Linked DNA regions of Homo sapiens: region 2 is linked to region 1. The links come from fine-mapping of genetic effects on gene expression. A gene starts in region 1. The other region holds a variant in brackets. All regions are shown on one strand. Distances are from middle to middle.

Region 1 (5,387 bases):
GTAAAGATTTCTAGAGAAAGTGATATTTAAACTAAGAGCTGGAGGAAATTGGTAAGCAGGGAGAATGGGTTAGGGATCTGGTGGAAGAGGAAGGGCATTCCTAGCAGAAGGAAGAGGAAAGATAGAAACATTGTAGATCTGCAATTTGTTCAGTCTGAGTTTGGTTGAAGGGTATAACTGGGAGACAGAGGAGAGTAATAGGAGTGTGAAGAGAGAAGAAATTAAGAAAAAATGTTTAATCAAGTTGAAGGAATCATTTTAAAAAGGAATATATCAAACAATACAATTCATTGTGAATTTTTGAGATGATTCATTTAGAGTATAAATTTTTGATCACTTTATCTTATAGACATAATTTATTTAATTCAAAAGTAAAGATGGATTTCAACCTGATATTAGCGACTTCATATTCACATGCATATTTATTATATATCCACTTCATTACAGTTCTACAGTCTGCACCTTACTTATCATTAGGGACACTTACCTTATGATAAATGGGCTTCACTAGTAGTGGTTTGAGGCATTATTATATATTCATCTATGAAGATTATAAAGCATCTATTAATTCATTTATCCAGGAACGATTACTTTAAATCCCGAATATTCTTCTAATGAGGCAGAAAATAGTGTATTTTTTCTGTTATTTTAATACTTGGTTTTAACTTTTAAATGAAGGCTAAATCAATTAAATTAGTTAATTTGATCAATCAGTTTATAAATTTGGCAGGACACAATAGTTTTGAGTAAAAGGATTGCATGATGATGCATACCGAAACCCCCGTTTTAAGTCTCAGTCCTTTGGCAAATATATTCTGTTCTTTCATTGGTCCATTAGGTTCTCTCTGCTTCATATAATGCAACTTCAAAATTGGTATAACATTGTCTATGGATGCAGCTTATAAGGATCAATGATTTAAACATAATTTGTAATGTTCCAAAAATAATGTATTAATTTACAACCGTATCTGAAATTTGATACTTTTTTGGGTGGTTTGAAGAAAAGGAGTTGTTAGTAGGCATTTAACTTTTTAAAAAATATTAAAATCTGTATATCGACTGCTAATGGATAAAGTTCATCTGTAATATTGTTATGATAATTGAAGCAAACTACTTTGTGCCACAATACACCCTTTTCTCTTTTGTACTTCATAAATCAATGATTCTTTATGTTTCTGAACACAGATGTATGCCCCAGGGTAGAAGAAATATTTCTCATTTGCTTTCCTATTTTCAGTCTTTATCACAAGTAATGCTCATTTTGCAGACTGTACCTGTACTATGTACACATGGAAATTAAGGTGAGCTTAAATTCATATAATTTTTATTTGTGACCTTACTCTTGGGGTTAGAAGACTAATAAAAATATCAGCCACTTCTCTTGTTTGATGGAGCTGAAAGGGAAATGGAGAGATTAATGAGACTGATCAGGATTAGAAAGAATGAACAAATCGAGTAAATTTCCTCTCGGGCTCCGTCTCTCCCTCTATAAACATTTATTAAGCATCTAATTTAAAACTAAAAATTGTAAAAATGTCGGAAGGAAACAGTTGTTACATACACTCCTTTATTATTGTGAACTGAAAGCAGATTACAAAGTTTTAAAAATTATTCAAGGATATTCAGTGCACGCAGTCGTGAAATTTGATTCCAAGAGAGGTACGCGCATTTAGCCCTTCACTTAAACTGTATCATAAAGCCACTACAAGAGATGTACCTTCCCACCCTCACGTAATCTTTTTGCAATCACTGCTGGCAAGCCAACATTTGTGGTGATTTCAGATTAGGAGCCTGGCATCTTTGCTATAATCAAAACCTTATTCTCCCCTCTCCGCTCCTCCACTCCTTACCTTAATGAAAGTGCAAAAAACTAGTTTTACTGGGGAGGGAGGCAAGGAAGGAAGGAAGAGAAGAAGGAAAGGAGGGAGGAAAGGGGGTGGCACAGACCCAAGGAGGGAGTGAAATGAAGGAATGAGAGCGCTGTCCCTTTTTCTCGCTTTTGCTTTAGGAGCTCCCTGCCTGCCTGTCCCCGCGGGTCGGGGAGCTGCACCTCTTGCAGGCTCGGCTCTCGGCCCCGCCCCCTAGCGTCGGAGCCCGGGAGCCGCGGCTGCAGCCTATCTCTTTAAATGACAGCTGAGGCTCGGGTCCCAGTCCGGGGCTTGACGTCAGTGCCTCCTCCCGTGCTGCCAGGAGTAGTTAGCGCCACCGTCGGCGCTCCGGCCTCGCGGCACGCTTGCAAGCTGCCGGGGCGGCGAGTTTTCTTTGCTTCGGCCCCTCCTCCCGCCCTCCCCACGGAGAGCCGAGCAGCAGCCCTAGAGCCTCTCGCAAGTCTCTCTCACACTTCCCCGCCCTCGCCCCAAAGGAGCAGCAGCTCCTTCTTGCCTCTCCATTGCCGCCGCCGCACCGGCGGAGCTCCTCTCTCGCGCGTCTCTCCTCCGATGGAGCTCGGGCGCCGCCGACGCCGCCGCTGCCCCGAACCCTGAGCGGGGCCGCCCCGGTCGGAGGAACGCGCCGCCCAGTCCGAGGGCGCAGAGCGCCAGGAGCACGCGGAGGGCTGGGGCGCGGGCTCCGGGAACGAGAAAGTGCAGCTCTCTCGGGTCACTGGGCCGGCGGCGGGGGGACTATGGCTCTGAAGGACACGGGCAGCGGCGGCAGCACCATCCTGCCCATTAGCGAGATGGTTTCCTCGTCCAGCTCGCCCGGCGCGTCGGCCGCCGCCGCCCCGGGGCCCTGCGCACCCTCGCCCTTCCCTGAAGTAGTGGAGCTGAACGTAGGCGGCCAGGTTTATGTGACCAAGCACTCGACGCTGCTCAGCGTCCCGGACAGTACTTTGGCCAGCATGTTCTCGCCCTCTAGTCCCCGTGGCGGCGCCCGGCGCCGGGGCGAGCTGCCCAGGGACAGCCGGGCGCGCTTCTTCATCGACCGGGACGGCTTCCTTTTCAGGTACGTGCTGGATTATCTGCGGGACAAGCAACTCGCGCTGCCGGAGCACTTCCCCGAGAAGGAGCGGCTGCTGCGCGAGGCCGAGTATTTCCAGCTCACCGACTTGGTCAAGCTGCTGTCGCCCAAGGTCACCAAGCAGAACTCTCTCAACGACGAGGGCTGCCAGAGCGACCTGGAGGACAACGTCTCGCAGGGTAGCAGCGACGCGCTGCTGCTGCGCGGGGCGGCGGCCGCCGTGCCCTCGGGCCCGGGAGCGCACGGTGGTGGCGGCGGCGGCGGCGCGCAGGACAAGCGCTCGGGCTTCCTCACGCTGGGCTACCGGGGCTCCTACACCACCGTGCGCGACAACCAGGCCGACGCCAAATTCCGGCGTGTGGCGCGCATCATGGTGTGCGGGCGCATCGCGCTGGCCAAGGAGGTCTTCGGGGACACGCTCAACGAGAGCCGCGACCCCGACCGGCAGCCGGAGAAGTACACGTCCCGCTTCTACCTCAAGTTCACCTACTTGGAGCAGGCCTTTGATCGCCTGTCCGAGGCCGGCTTCCACATGGTGGCGTGTAACTCCTCGGGCACCGCCGCCTTCGTCAACCAGTACCGCGACGACAAGATCTGGAGCAGCTACACCGAGTACATTTTCTTCCGTAAGTTCGCAGCCCCGGCGTTTCCCAGCACCCCTCGCCCCCTGCTGAGCCGCCGCCAGTTTGAGCCCCGCTGGAGGCCCCGCGGGGGTGTCCGGGGCAGGCGCTGGTTAACTCCTTATAGAGAGCGGCTCTCCCTGCACGATTCCCTTATGCAGTAGACACGATTTACATTTCACCGATTCGGATATTTCCGTCTCTACTCCCCCTTTCTAGAACTCAGTAGCACCCAGCTCCCAGCTGTCTACTTGCTGAACTTTATTGATCTTGCCTTCTCGGCCCAGCCCGCTCCCAGATGCCAGGGTCTCCTCGGTTGCGGAGGACAGGGTGGGAGAGACTGGGGCACAGGGCAGGGTGCATAGACCCTCCTCCACCCCTTTGCTTTTGCAGGACTGCTGGGGGTCATTTCATGTGGCCCTCAGTGGTGTCCCTGCAGAGGGCAGGATGCCATAACAAGGCATCGCCTCGCACCACCTGGATCACCTGCTGTTGGTGCAGCTGCCGCGCGGGAGCCTCCAGTTACGGGTGGTTTTCTAGAGGGCAGGGGAGAAGCGATAAAGGTGCCCCCAGAGCCCCTCGAGGGGGCGGGGGCATGAGAGCGGGTGTGGGGAAAGGGGACTCCTTGACAGATGGAAACCCAGATTTCCCTGCGTCTGTTATCTCCAGTCTAATTGCCCAGTGTTTGGGACAGGGGAGGGTGGAAGGAATTAGAAAGTTTGCATGTCTGAGTGCTGCTCTTAGGGTTGGAGATTAGGAGGGGCAAGGGAGGAGGGAGGGAAGGTGTTGGGGAGGGAGGGGAAGAGAAAGAGAGAATGATTGTGTTTCCTTCTCCAGCGCGAAAGCGGGGGTTGAGTCCACTTTCTCAGGGTGAATAAATAGAGCGATTTTCTGAAATGAGAGAATGAAGGAATAGATTTGGGAAAGCATCTGGGGTGCGTTTTGCAGTGCGCTTCCGGAGCGGGCTATGTGGAGTTCAAGAACTATACCAAATACCATAATCTGAACCTGGGGATTGGGAGTGGGATTGGGAGTGGGGTGGGGCTGTGGTGGGCACAATTCTCAGTGGCGTTTATGAAGTGAAAAGACAACGACTAGAGAGCGATTTGGACAAACGAAAAGCCAGCTGGGATGGCAGCAGGAACATTATTTGGCAAAGGTTTTTCCTTTGGCCAGACACAAGTTAAAACTTGCCTGTAGCATAGGGAGAATAGCCTTGAAATCCTGTGATGGAAATAGACCAGCTTAAATTGAATTTATTTATTTTGGTAATTTAGTCACTACAGTAATTGGGAACTGAACAATTTTCTGGACTTTATTTTGACTGGAGAAATGGAAGGGAACTCTCCTTGCACAGGTGCAAGCTTAACTGGAAGGTTGGCTTAGTGTTTGTATATTCTGGTAACCTTGGAAGTTGGGTGACAAACCACAGCACACAGGTTCTCAGAGTTAGACTACTTTTTAAAGTAATGCTGGATTTCTTGAGACAACGGTTTCAACAGAGAAGCAAATGAAGTGTCTGTCCACTGAATTGGAAGCTAAAAAACTGTCTTAATTATATCAAAGTATTACTTGTTACACAATAAAAAGATTAATGGTCAGAAAAGCCACCCAAGGGAAGATATTTTATTGCTTGTATAAAATTGACATCTCTTAAATATATATTGAGTAATTAAGTATTTTAGCACCATTTTATTTCTTATCATTGTGACCTTTGTCAACAACTTTTTAGATTTTAAACCATTTAAGTCATTTCAATGTAGATTTCCAAACATTTCAGAAGATAAGGTAAAATGAACTTTTGCCTTT
Region 2 (5,387 bases), 96 kb before region 1:
CAGAGGAATAAGATTTTTTCTTAAAAAATGTAATCACAATGACTGTAATGTAGGTAGATTGGACCACTTTGAGAAACCTTGCTTAAGCTAACCTCTGTCTTTTTGTGTCCCTCTCCCACCTACAGCATAGGGTTAGGATTCAGACAGGGAGTCAGACTGTCAAGTAAACCATTCATTAGCTGTGGGAAGTTGAACACTGTTCAAAGTAGTAGACAGATAGATAGATAGATAGATAGATAGATAGATAGATAGATAGATAGATATATCTTTTATATAATATTATATATACATAATCTTATTTGCACTTCACACATGAAGCAGGTAATGTTGATGGTTTTCCCCACTTGTAGATGGGGAAATTAAATTCTAGCAAGTTTGGCAAGGTTAAATATACTCATGGTCATAATACCATATTACAATCAATATCCTATACCATATCATTACACTATACAATGATATTATCTCATTGGTTTACTGTGAGTATCAAATGGCAAATAAAGGTAGGATGCCTGGCACATAGTGCTCAATAAATATGTTAGCTATCTTTTTTGTAAAGGTTGTTCTAGCTCGTCTAATTATTTTTATTTCTTCATTCCCACAATGATCATATTTTGTAAAACAAATTTATCATAGACATTTGGCAACGTTCACCATTAATTTTTTAAACTGTGTTTAAGTTTTATTGACACATTTTTTGATGGTAGAGTCATATTACATTTTTATGTTCTTCTAAGAAAACACAGATAAGACCTGGGCAGAGAGTATGAACTATTTGATGAAGTATAAAGATCATGAGACTCCCATCTGTAATTCTGTAGGTGGTCTAGAGTGCCAATGGATGTGTCTCATATGGTGTAAGTTTTCCATATGTGTCTTAATATTAACCTGAAAAAAAACAGGATATATAAGTATATATGTGTATAAAATATATATTACATAAAAGTATATACACATATATATGGGGACATAAATATATATACACTTAATATATGGGTACACATTTTATATACACACACTATATATACACACACACATTATATGTATATGTATTCATAATGCTAATGTTCTGAGGGCAGATAAATACTGAGCTTATTTATTATTGTTTTGTACAGAGCTAAGTCCAGTACCAACAAGGTAGTAAATAGTCTGTACCATTAGTTAATGACTGTAACAGAAAAAGGGTTCAATTGTTTAGTATGCTACTCTAAAAGTAGAAAAGTTATTTTTAAATACTGAGAATTAAGCTTCATAGTTACCACTTGCTGTTTCCCACTCTTCATTCTCCACTTTCCTCTTCCATAAATACCTTCCAAATTCTATTTTCTGCAGTATCATGGGAAGAGAAAGAGACAGAGGTTATACTTGCTACTTTTGAAACATTTGCTCTTTTACTGATACCCAGGGTCAACTTTGACAATTGGCTCCATTTTTCCATGCTCGCCAAAGAAAAAAATGAATAAATAAGAAATTTTGCACAATTTAAAACTTTACTGAGAGCAGTGTAAAAGAAAGTTTAGTAAGGGACAGCACTACTAAACACTTGAAACTAAATACTGTCAGAGAGAACATTAATTAATGCTGATCAATGAATTTCTTTGAATGCCTCATTTTTACACAAAGATCAAAGTCAATTTCCCTTATTCAGCAGAACCAGATTCATCTAATTTCTCACCTTAATTAATGGATCTCTCTAAAAGAAGCCAAAAAAAGAAAAGATTGAATGGTAATTAAACGGTAATTTTGTAGTTAAAATTATTGCAAATTACATGCAAATTGGAAAATATCATCAGTAAAGATCTTTCTGTGTGAAATTCCTAGTGCCATTATCTGAATTTATTTTACGTTGTATTCTGGGAGCATATTCAACGCTCTGGGCAGACAGCAGCCTGTCATTTCAGAGACCTGGAGTTGACTGCTATCAGGGCCAGTAGGAACCTTGGTTGATAATAGCTTGAACCAAAGCAGCAGTAGTGGGAAAGGAAGGAAGGAAATAGATATACCGATGGTAAGAGGTAGAAAAAATAACCTTTGCTTGCCATATGAAAAAAAAAACTCTTCTCTAAAATGGAGGTTATGAGAAGTAGGTTCTGTAGATGGAAATAAGTCACCTTGGTTTAAAAATTTTCAAATCAGTAATTAGTACTACAGAGAATCAGGACTAGAAGTGACATGAATTTTGTATTTAAAAACCTTTACGCAAGATCTCTACAACTTCCATTTCATGTTGCAGATTTTGGTAATTAGGTAGCTCTTCTAGAAAAGTCTTCATTTTGCCCATTTGCTATTGTTTCCTGTTTTCTTTAGAGGTGATGAATAACCAAGTACTGTTTTTGAGCAATAACTGGCTGTTGGTTGCTCTCTGCTTTTCCAGATCCAGTCTCTTTCCTTCATACCCTGCTCTAGGTACCAGGAACCTGACTTCTGTGGACTGCATCACCTGTACTCTCTTGCCCTCTGGTTGGCCAATGGAGGCACTAGTAGGAGCTTGATGGATAGGAGGAGAACGAAATCCGAGTTTTATTTTCCCCAGGTGTTGGTCTGTGTTCAGACAGTGGCTGTGTTTCTCTACTTAAAGCCACAGCTCCTTTTGCAGCAGAGCCTTTCCCACCATTACAGCAATTGTCAGGTTTCAGGGACAACAGCATCTCTTTGCCGATTACCAGGATCTCACCCCAGATTACAGACGGTAAAAACTCCCCAGATTACAGACAGTAAAAACTTCTAGCTTCTAGAGTTAATAATTCTTCTCCTGCCCTAGTTGGTGTTTTTAACTCTCTTCACAACTCTGTAAATAGTCCCATTATTAAATGGTTTTACTTGTCACTTCTATGTGTCCTGCAAGGACCCTGACTCAAAATGATTCATATTCTCGAAACGTGGCATCATTAATTTTTCCTTGAGGTAAGTAAAGGTAATGAGTTTGTTTTTTGAAATTCACTTTGTTAACTATATTGGGGATTC[C/T]GTCTATTTTCTCCCCCTCAGATATCCCTCCTCTCTTCCATCCCTCCAAGGAGGCTTCTCTACCAAGTATAGTCCCATTTATGCTCCTGCAGCCCTTTCTATATGCCCTAGGCTGGCAGTTAGTCCATCGTATTGTAATTAATCATTTATTTGCTTCTTTCTTTTTCTTAAAAGTCCCTCTGCCTTACTTATCATTGTATTCCCAGACCTTGACGGTGCCTAGAAAAACTGGTGCTCAGTAAATGCTTAGTGAATGAGTTAATATCTTGGGGTAGGTCTTATGATGCTTTGTAATAGTTGAGTCATCCCATGGTATAGTACAGTATAATGGTTATGAACATGGTCTTTTGGCCAGACTATCAAGCTTGGATTCTGGCTCTACCATTTAACCTAGTAAGTGACCTTGAAGATATTTAACCTCAGTGCCACAGTATCTTTATGTCTTAAATGGTGATAATAACAGTACTTATTTAATACAGTTGTGTGGATTCAATGAGTTAAAATACATGAAGTGCTTAGGTCTGTGCTTGGCACATAACAAGGCTATATCATATGTTTATGGTTCTTATATAAGATACTAGTATGGAGAGAGTTAAAATATCAAATTGATGGTAAGCAGGAGATTTCAGAGCTAATTGCAAGCTAGACATAAATGCATCATCAGAATCTCAATGCCTCCATTAAGAGTTTTAAAAATGAATAAAATTGATAATGTGGAATTGTTGGTCAAAAGCCTGGTCTATTGTTAGGCTCTTAGAACCCCATGGAAGACCTTATCTTTTGCTTGGGCAGGGCTCACAAGCCACAAGGCAATAGTCATAAAATGACTTCAGTACGCATTCATTTTCAGACAGCATTGTGTTGTGTTTACTGGTAGAATTTTTACAGGATATAGGATAAATTTTTTTATTTTTTGTTTTTTAGTATTTGAGAGACATTTCACTTTGCTTTCCTAAATACAGATGATACTCACTGACCTTCCAGGGACTTCTGAAAATTAAAATAGAAATGTGAACAAGGCTTCTGGATGCTAAGTCCTTCAATTGTAGTTATTTTATTCTGACAATCTTCCCTATCAATAGTTAGAAGCAAAATTTCTGAAGTCAGACTTTTTAGGTTTAACTCTCTGCTCCACTCACTCCCATTAGCCGAGATATGACCTTAGGCTGATTACTTAAATTTTGTCTTAGTTATTTTAACTGTAAAATGAGAGTAATAACAGAATCTGCTTCATAGGGTCATTATGGGGATTACATGAGGTAATCGCATAAAGCTCTCAGAAAAGGGCCTGGCACAGATTAAGTGCTCAAATTGTTAATATTAGTGTTCTTTATTTAAAACAAAAATACTCTAAGTTTCACACCAACTGTTTATATGAAAAGGTAGAGGCAGATTATTAACGCAACATAAATTTAGTCATTTTGTTGTTGTTATTTAAATATAGGTTTTAGGCAAGAAGAGAGGCCTACTTATTTTCCCTTTCAGGATGACAATTTATACATGTAATTTAGATCTACACAATCGATCCAAATTCTTTCTAACAATACCTGAAGGGGTTATTTTAACTCTGGACATAAAGATTACGAATGGGTTAATGGCGAAGAAATTAGTCTTCTCAAAAAAAGTTCTATAGTTATTTGATGGCAAGAAATTTCCCTTTTTAATTTGGTTAACTGATGTGTGTGTGTGTGTGTGTGTGTGTGTGTAAAACCTAGCCAAGAGCGCCTTGGATAATGCTATGGATTCAGTTTCTGCTCGTTCATTGAACTATTTCTACATTGCCCTCTAATCCACCATTCAGACTTGTGGATCCCTGTATTAGTCAAGATAATTTATTGGTTTCCGTGTTACAGCTAATAGATTGTTAGTATGGAGTTCTCCATCTGTGACAACACAAATTTCAGTCTAAACTGTAGAATTTCACCAGTTGTTCTTCGAGGCTGCTGTGATTCTACAGACTACAACTATTATTGTGCAAAGCTCAGCCACTTAATAGCCTCGTGTACTTGGGCAAGTGCCTCTCCATCCTTTACCACCAAAATAAGTGAAATAATAGTACTCAGATTATGAGGACTGAAAAAATTAATATTTATAAAATCTTTAGAACATTACTCGGCACATAGTAAGTGCTATGGTTTGAATATGTCCTCTCCAAAATCTAAGTATTGATGCTGAATGGCCGATGTGATGTTATTAAGAGACGGGGCCTTTAAGAGGTGATTAGATCATGAGGACTCCTCTCTTGTGAATGGGATCAAGGTCCTTATAGAAGAAACTTCCTACAGAATTTTACCCTTTTTGTTTTTCCATCTTCTGGTCTCCTGTTACGGAGAGGCAACAAGAAGGCCCTCGCCAAATGCCAAATTCCAGTGCCTTGCTCTTGGACTTCCCAGCCTTCCCAACTGTGAGAAATGAATTTCTATCAT

Which allele goes with the higher level. Positions count from the first base shown, and alleles are read on the strand shown. Sizes are in standard deviations (SD) of each study's normalised expression.
In carriers of allele C in region 2, the expression in tibial nerve of the gene that starts at base 2,338 in region 1 tends to be lower than with T alone (large effect, 1.3 SD a copy in GTEx).

The links. PIP is the estimated chance that this variant, and not a neighbour inherited with it, causes the effect.
Region 2: its variant is the best candidate, but not a certain one, in a credible set for the expression of KCTD8 in tibial nerve (GTEx, PIP 0.82).

Annotation. Positions count from the first base shown.
Region 1 is chr4:44,445,760-44,451,146 of GRCh38, reverse strand. KCTD8 (potassium channel tetramerization domain containing 8) reads left to right here and starts at 2,338. Exons shown (of 2, transcript NM_198353.3): 1 at 2,338-3,584. The coding sequence starts at 2,624.
Region 2 is chr4:44,542,203-44,547,589 of GRCh38, reverse strand. No RefSeq gene overlaps it. Among named protein-coding and RNA genes, the nearest start is that of KCTD8, 96 kb to the right of the region's middle. The variant C/T (reference allele first, on the strand shown) is at 2,962.